Homo sapiens: one gene and its partners. The protein of the gene in region 1 purifies or fractionates together with the protein of each later gene. This does not show direct contact. Each region holds a gene or a part of one and is shown in the gene's direction. Other genes may lie near its edges. The genes, in order: RPS6KA4, GBP6 and WASHC4.

What was found.
Region 2: the proteins of RPS6KA4 (region 1) and GBP6 purify together in Homo sapiens (affinity purification with mass spectrometry, with the first as the bait; one large-scale study listed by BioGRID). This does not show direct contact.
Region 3: the proteins of RPS6KA4 (region 1) and WASHC4 purify together in Homo sapiens (affinity purification with mass spectrometry, with the first as the bait; one large-scale study listed by BioGRID). This does not show direct contact.

The regions. Positions count from the first base shown.
Region 1 is NC_000011.10:64,357,662-64,361,491, forward strand, and holds the start of RPS6KA4 (ribosomal protein S6 kinase alpha-4), read left to right. Parts: upstream 1-1,500; 5' UTR 1,501-1,574; coding exon 1,575-1,629; intron 1,630-1,716; coding exon 1,717-1,788; intron 1,789-2,501; coding exon 2,502-2,720; intron 2,721-2,815; coding exon 2,816-2,931; intron 2,932-3,472; coding exon 3,473-3,580; intron 3,581-3,807; coding exon 3,808-3,830. UniProt on the Homo sapiens protein: Serine/threonine-protein kinase that is required for the mitogen or stress-induced phosphorylation of the transcription factors CREB1 and ATF1 and for the regulation of the transcription factor RELA, and that contributes to gene activation by histone phosphorylation and functions in the regulation of inflammatory genes.
Region 2 is NC_000001.11:89,370,471-89,374,200, forward strand, and holds part of GBP6 (guanylate-binding protein 6), read left to right. Parts: intron 1-3,730.
Region 3 is NC_000012.12:105,163,231-105,166,730, forward strand, and holds part of WASHC4 (WASH complex subunit 4), read left to right. Parts: intron 1-880; coding exon 881-1,077; intron 1,078-1,410; coding exon 1,411-1,510; intron 1,511-3,500. UniProt on the Homo sapiens protein: Acts as a component of the WASH core complex that functions as a nucleation-promoting factor (NPF) at the surface of endosomes, where it recruits and activates the Arp2/3 complex to induce actin polymerization, playing a key role in the fission of tubules that serve as transport intermediates during endosome sorting.

The DNA.
Region 1 (3,830 bases):
CTCCAGGGTCTTGGCCAGTCCGGCCGGCCAAAGCCCGGATGTCCTGGTGAGGTGGAGAGGGGATGACATCCTGGGTAGCCAGCAGGGATTGGGGTCTAAGATCTGGGCTCAGGGGTGTGGGGCAGTGAAGCCCCTGTTGCCCCGCCCCCACCCTCTCCCAGGGCACTGTCTTCTCTCTGTTCACATCCTCCTCCTACTCATCTCCCCTCCCTCCTTGAGGTTGAGCCCCCTCCCCAGGGAGTTCTCAGCCTGGCGGGGCATCACTTAATGCCAGGGGTTGCCAGGAGAGGTGGGAGGGACGCTGGCTCTCTGACCAGGGCCTCTAGCCTGATGCCTGAGAGGCGGGGCAATTCGGCTGGGGTGCAGGATGTGAGTCAGGGTACCTGGGGCCACCCAGGGGAGGGTGGAGCTGCCCAGGGCTGAGATAAGGCAGCCTGAACTTGGGGGGTGCAGAGCTGGGAGGGACGGTCCGTCCGGCCTCCCAGGTGTGACCTGCAGCAGCTTGAGTTCCTCCTCCTCTCAGCCAGGGCTTCACAGGACAGGGGCGTGGGGTGGACACCCTGGCCTCTCCAGCTGGCAGAGGAGCTGAGAGCCCCTCCCACCGGCCTCAGGGTGTGGGGCCTCATGGCTGTCCCACTCTGCTAGGTGGCCCCATTGGTGGTCAGGAAGGGAAAGGCAGGAAGAAGACGGAGCAGGGGCTCAGGAGGACCAGTCAGCAGGGGCCCTGGGCCTCATGGGGAGAGGGGGCAGCCCCGTGTGGCACTGACATCTCTTCTTGAGGCCTGCTCAGGGCTCTAAGCTGGGTACTGCACCAGGCTAGGAGACAACAGGAGCAGAACACGTGAGGTGCGCATGGCACCTGGTGGGCTCTGCACGGTGACTGGGGGCTGAAGTGCTTCTGCAGGCACCCCCGACAGAAAGCTGGTCAGAAAACTGGCCACTCCTCTCCTTGCCATGGGGTCCCAGGCCGGGCTCCAGCCCCCTCTTGGTGATGAGGCTCCTCCTTGCAAAGGCCAGTCCTCTGGGGAGAGGGGCCCTGCTGGCCACCCCCAGGACGATGGAGTGGGGTGGGCTCCACTGCCTGAGAGTTGGGTGACTTCCAGGATCCAGACCCCCTCTCAGCCTGCCCAGCACCAGGCACCTCGTCCCCCACCTTGGGGCACAGACTCCTAATGTCCTCCAGCCACTGGCTGCAGCCGGCATTCCCGGGCAGATTCCTGGCTTGGGGACTAATGCCCCAGAGGCTCCAGGTTACCCACGGGCTCAGGGATGGCTCCCACGGGGTGTTTCCAGTTCCCGGGAGAGTCGAGTAAGGTCCCGGAGCGCACGGCCCTGAGGCCTGGCCTGGGGGCTCGGGAGACAGGGCGGCCCCAGCCGGCCGCCCACCGGCAGCCCGGCGCTGTCACGTTCCAGCCGCCTGACTCAGGCCGCGCAGGGCGGGGAGCCGGGAGGCGGTGCCGGCGCCCGCCTCGGCCCCGGAGGCGGCACCAGGAAGCGCCCGCCCCGGCCGGAGCCGCCATGTAACCGGCGCCGCCCGGAGCCCGAGCCGCGCGGGCCCCAGCGACCCGCCCGCCATGGGGGACGAGGACGACGATGAGAGCTGCGCCGTGGAGCTGCGGATCACAGAAGGTGGGTGTGGGGCCTGACTGCGGCTGCCCGGGGCAGGCCGGGACGGGTCATGGACCGGCTGGGCTCATTCGCCCCCTGTGCCCACAGCCAACCTGACCGGGCACGAGGAGAAGGTGAGCGTGGAGAACTTCGAGCTGCTCAAGGTGCTGGGCACGGGAGGTGAGGACCCCCATCCACCGGGCAGGCGTCCCAGGCGCGGTGCCCCTGACCTCCTGCCTGCTCACTCTTGGGCCTGGGCCAGGCCACTGAGCAGGCCCCCCACCCTTTCCCGGCACAGCCTGCCTTGCCTGCCCCGCCCTGCCTCGCCAGAGTTTGCATGCCCACTTCCAGGGCACTCCACATTGACATCACTCCTCCCTCCACGGTCCTGTGCGTGCATACCCCCCTGGATTTGCCAACACCCTGGGGAGGGGGACTGGCGCCCCTCTCAAGTGATTTGCATAGCTCCTCCCTTTCTTCCAATATGGGATCCCCCTCCCACATTTTGCAAATGCCCCAGCGCTGGTTTGCGCATCCCTTCCCCAGCCAGGTGCACACCTCTGCCTCCCTTCCTTGCACTGGCATCTTTTCACATCCATCTGATCTCTCGCAGGTTTGCATATGCCCCGCCCCCATGCCTCGCAGCAGGCCCCCTGGAGATGCATGCTCCCCAGCCTGGTTTGCACATCCTTTCCCTGGTTTTGCTGGGCACCCTCCCGGGGTGTGCACACCCTTTCCTTAGAAGGCTCTGCCAGCTTTTTGCACACCTGCCTGTTGCCCCAGCTCCTTCGCCTCATTTGCACACCCTCCTGGGTTGGCATCGCCCCCACCCCCCAAGCCTGCACCAATCTCCCGCTCACAGCCCACCCTCCACCCACTCGCTGCTCCCACAGCCTACGGCAAGGTGTTCCTGGTGCGGAAGGCGGGCGGGCACGACGCGGGGAAGCTGTACGCCATGAAGGTGCTGCGCAAGGCGGCGCTGGTGCAGCGCGCCAAGACGCAAGAGCACACGCGCACCGAGCGCTCGGTGCTGGAGCTGGTGCGCCAGGCGCCCTTCCTGGTCACGCTGCACTACGCTTTCCAGACGGATGCCAAGCTGCACCTCATCCTGGGTGAGCGCACACCACATCCCAACGGGGTTGGGGTGGCTGGGGGCAGGCGAGGCCACCTGACGGGGCTGCTTCCTGACTTCCACTGCACCTCCCAGACTATGTGAGCGGCGGGGAGATGTTCACCCACCTCTACCAGCGCCAGTACTTCAAGGAGGCTGAGGTGCGCGTGTATGGGGGTGAGATCGTGCTGGCCCTGGAACACCTGCACAAGGTGGGTGAAGACCTGGCCGCAGGCTGTTGCTATGGAAACTGGGTCTGTGCCTTGGAAGGAATCTGCACGCAGGGCAGCCTCAGGCTTCCCCCTGGGCTTCCTGGGGGGCCAGTGGTGAGCTGGGTGGGAATTGGAGCTGCTTCCCCTGGACCCCTTGCAGGAAGCCTCAACGTTGCCTGGTGGGGTCCCCTCCCCTGGCACCTCCTCGAAGGGGCTTTCCTCTTTCAGGGAACTCGGGGCTGCGTTCACAGAACTTCCTCAAATGGAAACCTCACGGCCTGGCTCCTAAGGCCTCCTTGAAATGGAGCTCTTCACACAGACTTTCCTCTCTCTGGGACCTTGGGGCCTGATCCACGGGGCCCTCCTTCTTTGTTTTATATCTTAAATGGCCTTTCTTATTCAGTGGCTCTGCCCTGGAGACCCCCTCTACAGGCAGATGACTTTCTCTGGGGGGTCTCCTTATCCTGAGCAGGGCCAGGAGCTGGAGGAGCTGGGGAGGGTTTCGGGGAGGAAGCCTCAGCACCCCTCTTGCTCCTACCAGCTCGGCATCATTTACCGAGACCTGAAACTGGAGAATGTGCTGCTGGACTCCGAGGGCCACATTGTCCTCACGGACTTCGGGCTGAGCAAGGAGTTCCTGACGGAGGAGGTGAGTGGAGGCCACCTCTGCCTGCAGTGCCCCATTCAATCCTTCTCCTTCCTGCCTCTTCCTGCTCTGGGCCTGCATTCTGGGGCTGCAGAAGTGAATAGCTCCAAGAAGTTTCCACAGCTCAGCTCTCCAACCTCACAAGTTGAGCGAGTCTTACTCTGGGCCTTGTGGGGCACTGGGGCACAGGAGAGGTTTCGACATCTAAGCAGGACCTCTTGCCCTCCCAGAAAGAGCGGACCTTCTCCTTCTG
Region 2 (3,730 bases), on another chromosome or scaffold:
AAAAAGTATTTGTTCTTCCTACAATAAACATTATAAGATGAATTTTTGATATTTAGCTTCTTATGAATGGGTGAAATAAATAATTTCTCTCTTTTATTATCTTACTTTGAGAGTTATTTGGGAATGGGTTCTAAATTTCTATACACTTTATTTTTGCCCAAACAGGCGTTAGAAATTCTGTTTATTTTTCTGCTTTAGTGTTGTATAATTGACAAATAAAAATTATATATAATTAAGCTGTACAACTTAATGTTTTGGTATGTGTATACACTGTGAAATGATCACCACAATCCAGCCAATAATATAGCTGTTACCTCACATAGTTACCGTTTTCTTTTTTCTATGCTCTCTTTTTATTTTTTGGTGTGGTAAGAACAATTAAGATCTGTCCTCTTAGCGGAAGTGAAGGTCACAATCAATATAGTATTGTTACTTATAGTCACACTGCTGTACGGTAGATCTCCAGAGTTTATTTATCTTTCATAACTGAAATTTTGAACTCTGTCACCAACATTTCTTCATTTCTCGCATCCCCAGCCCCTGGCAACCACTATTATACTCTGCTGCTATGAGTTTAACTATTTGACTATTTTAGATTCCACAAATAGGTGAGATCATGCAGTATTTGTCTTTCTATGTCTGACTTATTTCACTTAGCATAACGACCTCAGTGTTCATCTATGTTGTTGCAAATGACAAAATTCCCTTTTTTGAGATTGAATATATATAGACGGATTCGCAGCTGAATTCTACCAGAGGTACAAGGAGGAGCTGGTACCATTCCTTCTGAAACTATTCCAATCAATAGAAAAAGATGGAATCCTCCCTAACTCATTTTATGAGGCCAGCATCATCCTGATACCAAAGCCTGGCAGAGACACAACAACAAAAAAAGAGAATTTTGGACCAATATCCCTGATGAACATCAATGCAAAAATCCTCAATAAAATACTGGCAAACCGAATCCAGCAGCACATCAAAAAGCTTATCCACCATGATCAAGTGGGCTTCATCCCTGGGATGCAAGGCTGGTTCAACATATGCAAATCAATAAACATAATCCAGCATAAAAAGAGAACCAAACACAAAAACCACATGATTATCTCAATAGATGCAGAAAAGGCCTTTGACAAAATCCAACAGCTCTTCATGCTAAAAACTCTCAATAAATTAGGTATTGATGGGACGTATTTCAAAATAATAAGAGCTATTTATGTCAAACCCACAGCCAATATCAGACTGAATGGACAAAAACTGGAAGCATTCCCTTTGAAAACTGGCACAAGACAGGGATGCCCTCTCTCACCACTCCTATTCAACATAGTGTTGGAAGTTCTGGCCAGGGCAATAAGGCAGGAGAAAGAAATAAAGGGTATTCAATTAGGAAAAGAGGAAGTCAAATTGTCCCTGTTTGCAGATGACATGATTGTATATCTAGAAAACCACATCATCTCAGCCCAAAATCTCCTTAAGCTGATAAGCAACTTCAGCAAAGTCTCAGGATACAAAATCAATGTGCAAAAATCACAAGCATTCTTACACACCAATAACAGACAAACAGAGAGCCAAATCATGAATGAACTCCCATTCACAATTGCTTCAAAGAGAATAAAATACCTAGGAATCCAACTTACAAGGGATGTGAAGGACCTCTTCAAGGAGAACTACAAACCACTGTGCAATGAAATAAAAGAGGACACAAACAAATGGAAGAGCATTCCATGCTCATGGATAGGAAGAATCAATATTGTGGAAATGGCCATACGGCCCAAGGTAATTTATAGATTCAATGCCATCCCCATCAAACTACCAATGACTTTCTTCAGAGAATTGGAAAAACTACTTTAAAGTTCATATGGAACCAAAAAAGAGCCCACATTGCCAAGACAGTCCTAAGCCAAAAGAACAAAGTTGGAGGCATCATGCTACCTGACTTCAAACTATACTACAAGGCTACAGTAACCAAAATAGCATGGTACTGGTACAAAAACAGAGATATAGATCAATGGAACAGGACAGAGCTCTCAGAAATAATACCACACATCTACAACCATCTGATCTTTGACAAACCTGACAAGAACAAGAAATAGGGAAAGGATTCCCTATTTGATAAATGGTGCTGGGAAAACTGGCTAGCCATATATAGAAAGCTGAAACTGGATCCCTTCCTTACACCTTATACAAAAATTAATTCAAGATGGATTAAAGACTTAAATGTTAAGCCTAAACCCATAAAAACTCTAGAAGAGAACCTAGGCAATACCATTTAGGACATAGGCATGGGCAAAGACTTCATGTCTAAAACACCAAAAGCAATGGCAACAAAAGCCAAAATTGACAAATGGGATCTAATTAAACTAAAGAGCTTCTGCACAGCAAAAGAAACTACCATCAGAGTGAACAGGCAACCTACAGAATGGGAGAAAATTTTTGCAATTGACTCATCTGACAAAGGGCTAATATCCAGAATCTACAATGAACTCAAACAAATTTACAAGAAAAAAACAAACAACCCCATCAAAAAGTGGGCAAAGGATATGAACAGACACTTCTCAAAAGAAGACATTTATGCACCCAGCAGACACATGAAAAAACGCTCATCATCACTGGCCATCAGAGAAATGCAAATCAAAACCACAATGAGATACCATCTCACACCAATTAGAATGGTGATCATTAAAAAGTCAGGAAGCAACAAGTGCTGGAGAGGATGTGGAGAAATAGGAACACTTTTACACTGTTGGTGGGACCGTAAACTAGTTCAACCATTGTGGAAGACAGTGTGGCGATTCCTCAAGGATCTAGAACTAGAAATACCATTTGACCCAGCCATCTCATTACTGGGTATATACCCAAAGGATTATAGATCATGCTGCTATAAAGACACATGCACATGTATGTTTATTGCGGCACTATTCACAGTAGCAAAGACTTGGAACCAACCCAGATGTCCATCAGTGATAGACTGGATTAAGAAAATGTGGCACATATACACCATGGAATACTATGCAGCCATAAAAAATGATGAGTTCATGTCCTTTGTAGGCACATGGATGAAGCTGGAAACCATCATTCTCAGCAAACTATCACAAGGACAAAAAACCAAACACCACATGTTCTCACTCATAGGTGGGAATTGAACAATGAAAACACTTGGACACAGGGTGGGGAACATCACACACCAGGGCCTGTCGTGAGGTGGCAGGAGCAGGGAGGGATAGCATTAGGAGATATACCTAATGTAAATGATGAGTTAATGGGTGCAGCACACCAACATGGCACATGTATACATATGTAACAAACCTGCATGTTGTGCACATGTACCCTAGAACTTAAAGTATAATAAAAATATATAAATTATATATATATTCAATAAATATATATATGCATGCTATGGATAGTTTGGCTGTGTCCTCACCCAAATCTCATCTTGAATTGTAGTTCCCATAATCCCCGCATGTCGTGGGAGGGACCTGGTGGGAGGTAATTGAATCATGTGGGTGGTTTCCCCATGCTATTCTCGTGATAGTGAGTAAGTTCTCATGAGAGCTGATCATTTTATAAGGGGATTCCCCCTTTACTTGGCTATCATTCTTCTCTCTCCTGCTACCATGTGAAGAAGGATGTGTTTGCTTCCCCTTCCACCATGATTGTAAGTTTCCTGAGGCCTCCCTAGCCATGCTGACCTGTGAGTCAAACCTCTTTCCTGTGTAAATTGTCCAGTCTCGTG
Region 3 (3,500 bases), on another chromosome or scaffold:
TACAGGCATGAGCCACCATGCCCGGCCTATAGATTTGTTTTTCATGAGTGTTGTTTACCGTGTTTTTAGCTGGAATACATGATTGACGATACTTGTTTTCTGTAGTTTATAACTTATTGAATGCCTTCTTAGTATTGCTAATCACTTGTCCACTTTGGCCTAATATTTAGGCTTTGTTTTTGTTGGGGTTGTACAGTTTTAACGTCTTATATTTAGTTTCTCTGGTTTCCTTGTAGCTTCCTCAATTGCCATCTTTTTAGCAGTTGAAGTGTTTTTTTCCTTTCTTTTTGAGGCAGGGTCTTGCTCTGTCACCCAGGCTGGAGTGCAGTGGTGCAGTCATGGTTCACTGCAGCCTCGACCTCCTGGACCCAAGCGATCCTCCCACCTCAGCCTCCCGAGTAGCTGAGACTACAGGCATGCATCGCCACATCTGGCTAATTAAAAAAATTTTTGTTTTTTTTAGAGACAGGAGTCTCACTGTGTTGCCCAGGTTGGTCTTAAACTCCTGGGCTCAAGAGGTCCTCTAGCCTCAGCCTCCCAAAGTATTGGGATTATAGGTACAAGTCATGGAAAGTTTTATTCTTTATGCTTACAGCTATATCGTTTCTCCTGGTGATTTATATGGCCATGTTAGTTATTTATTTTCTTCTTAATTGACTTGTCTTTAGTTATACTTCTACATTGTTTTTAAAGGAGGAATTAAGCCATTTTGTTAAACCCATCATTCATTTATGCTGTAAAATGTAACTTGAAACGGGACAAACTTAAAATGCTAGGAATTATTACTCAGAATGCTTAGTGTTGGGAATTATTGGTGAAGGAGTAGAATACCACTTCTGTACTCACTGTAATTTAACCTTAGTTTTGCTTATGCCTGCAGGTGTGGCTTACATTCTAAAGCTTTTGGATCAGTATCGGGAGTTTGATTCACTTCACTGGTTCCAGTCTGTTAGAGAGAAATACCTGAAGGAGATAAGAGCAGTTGCTAAGCAACAGAATGTACAGTCAGCCAGTCAAGATGAAAAACTCTTACAAACCATGAATCTCACTCAGAAGCGACTGGATGTCTATCTACAGGTAGAGAGGAGCCTAAGAGTCACATCTGCTTTGACTTACCATTTGATATCCATGACTTCTTAATGTCTGAAAAGCAGAAGCCATATAGAAACTACCATTTTCACAAGTGAGATGAATAGTGGCAAAAAGATTATATTTTAAAATGAGTGCTATTTGGAAGCCATTTGACTCACATCTTAAAAATGGGCGGGTTACTTATTTCAGTTTCTGTATTTATGATTTCCACTAGAGCTTTTAAAAATAATAATAAGAGGCATAAAAATGCATATATTTTTGGTATTTTGCCATAATAAGTATTTTTGGTTTTTATTTCAAATTTTTAAATTTACTTAGGAATTTGAATTGCTGTATTTCTCACTGAGCAGTGCAAGAATTTTCTTCAGAGCAGACAAGACTGCGGCTGAAGAAAACCAAGAAAAGAAAGAGAAGGAAGGTCAGTGAGTGGTTTAAATTTGGAAAGACCAATAAATGTCTTTAGTAATAGACAGTAATGCACCATTTTATCTGGTCAGACATCTAGCTTCTTTGTCCTTTTGGAAAATAACACAGACCTAGCATTAAGTCTTTTAAAAAAAGTAAAGCCTGTATAGATCTTGTGTGAAATTGAAAAGGAATTTATGTAGTTTATGCATTTCACACTTGGTAACCCTTTAAAACCTTGTTCAGGATCATCTGCTTTTAATTTAAATACACTTTTCACAAGTTTGGTTTTTCTTTCATGGCTCAAACTATTAGATTTGAAGGAACAAATAGAGGAGGACAGCTAAATGTTGCTGAAGGCAGAGCTGCTGATGACTAGATGTTGACTGAATGAGATGGGACAGATGATTAAAGAACTGTAAAATCATAGGGGCTATTTAGTTGTAGTAAATAGCATCCTGCCTTCTTTCATAGTCAGGCCCTGGAGACTCAGGCAATATAGCCATAATAACTGATAGTGATTTCAATGAACTTCAGTCATTAAGGAAAGGATTCTGTCCATTGTATTCTATGTAGGATGGTGGAAAGGAATCTATACTTTTTAAGGCGTAAGAGCATTGTTCAGTGTTTCATATTTAATGTCCCCATGATATATTTCTCTCAGATTTGAAATTTAGGAATAATCATCTTCTCTGAGAAACAGATGTTTCCCTTTTTCTGTCATGGATATTATATAGCATACATTTCTCATTGCTTGGAAGATCAAAACTAGATACAGCGACTAGTTAACCCTTATAATTTTCATGTTTACTAGTCTCCTTTTTGTCTTACTCGTGCTTCATGAAGTTTTCATAAATCAAGATATAAAGCTCTTCATAAAACAAGATGTTTTTATTAATCTTATTTTATGTTAATTTTTAAAATACACCTTTTTTCTTTATATAGAGTAGAGGTGACTCATTGGGTAGACCACTTACGTGAACTACCTTATTTCTTGACATTGTTGCATAAATTAAATATTACTAATATTACTTATTAATTAGGTGCATATCCAGGCGTTTTTTGAATCTAGACTAAATAAACATGCTTGAAAAAATTGTTTCAGCTTATTAATCTGGAAGACACTCAATATTAAATGAAAATTTATACATACTACATTTGTGTTCATTTTCAAGGATAAATTAGCAAAGCCATTTGGAAGAATTTGAATCAATATAATCTAAATTATGAAGAAACTCAGTTATTGCCTCAGTTCTGCTCATGTGTTTCATGATGCCAGAACCTTTTCCCCAGCCCAGGTGACTGGGAAAACTCTGCGGGGCGATTGGACATTTGCTTTCAGGCTAAAGCATTAAAACAAAACAAACAACCCTTCAGTCTCATGGCAGTGGGATTCCTTGCTTTGGCCTATTCCTCTTAAGGAACTCTCCAGAGTTGCAGTTGTTATGTTATCACTCACATCACTGTTCTAAGACTATTTCAGCTAAAGATTGCTCAGAGATATAGTCAGTTTCTGAATACATTACTCAAATAGTCTTTGTCTGTTAATGAAATATGCACACATGACATTTTGCACAAAAAGCCAGGAATTCATTCTGTCAAAAACAGTGAAAAGCTGTTTCATTTAAAATTATTTTAAGAAATAATATATATTACGTATAATTTATTATAATAAGTTATAAATACAAATGGAAAGTTATTCATTCTGGACAGTTTTGATATGTGAGTTTGCAGCCATGTTCCTACCAGGAATGACAATGTACTGTAATGGTTCTTTCTTGGCCCAGCTGGAGGAACTGGCGTGAGGGGAGCGGGCCTTTCTTAGACCAGGAATATCAAGATTCCTCAGGACAAAGGAGCCCATGTGGTTTGAAGCCCCACCCCAATACAGGTTCTGAGCTCCCTCAACTCCACCTTCATTAAAAACCAGTGGAAACAATTGCAGTGTTTAGCCTAGATTTTTAAAAATTTTAAAGTGTAAACAAGGTATAATTTGTGATGTT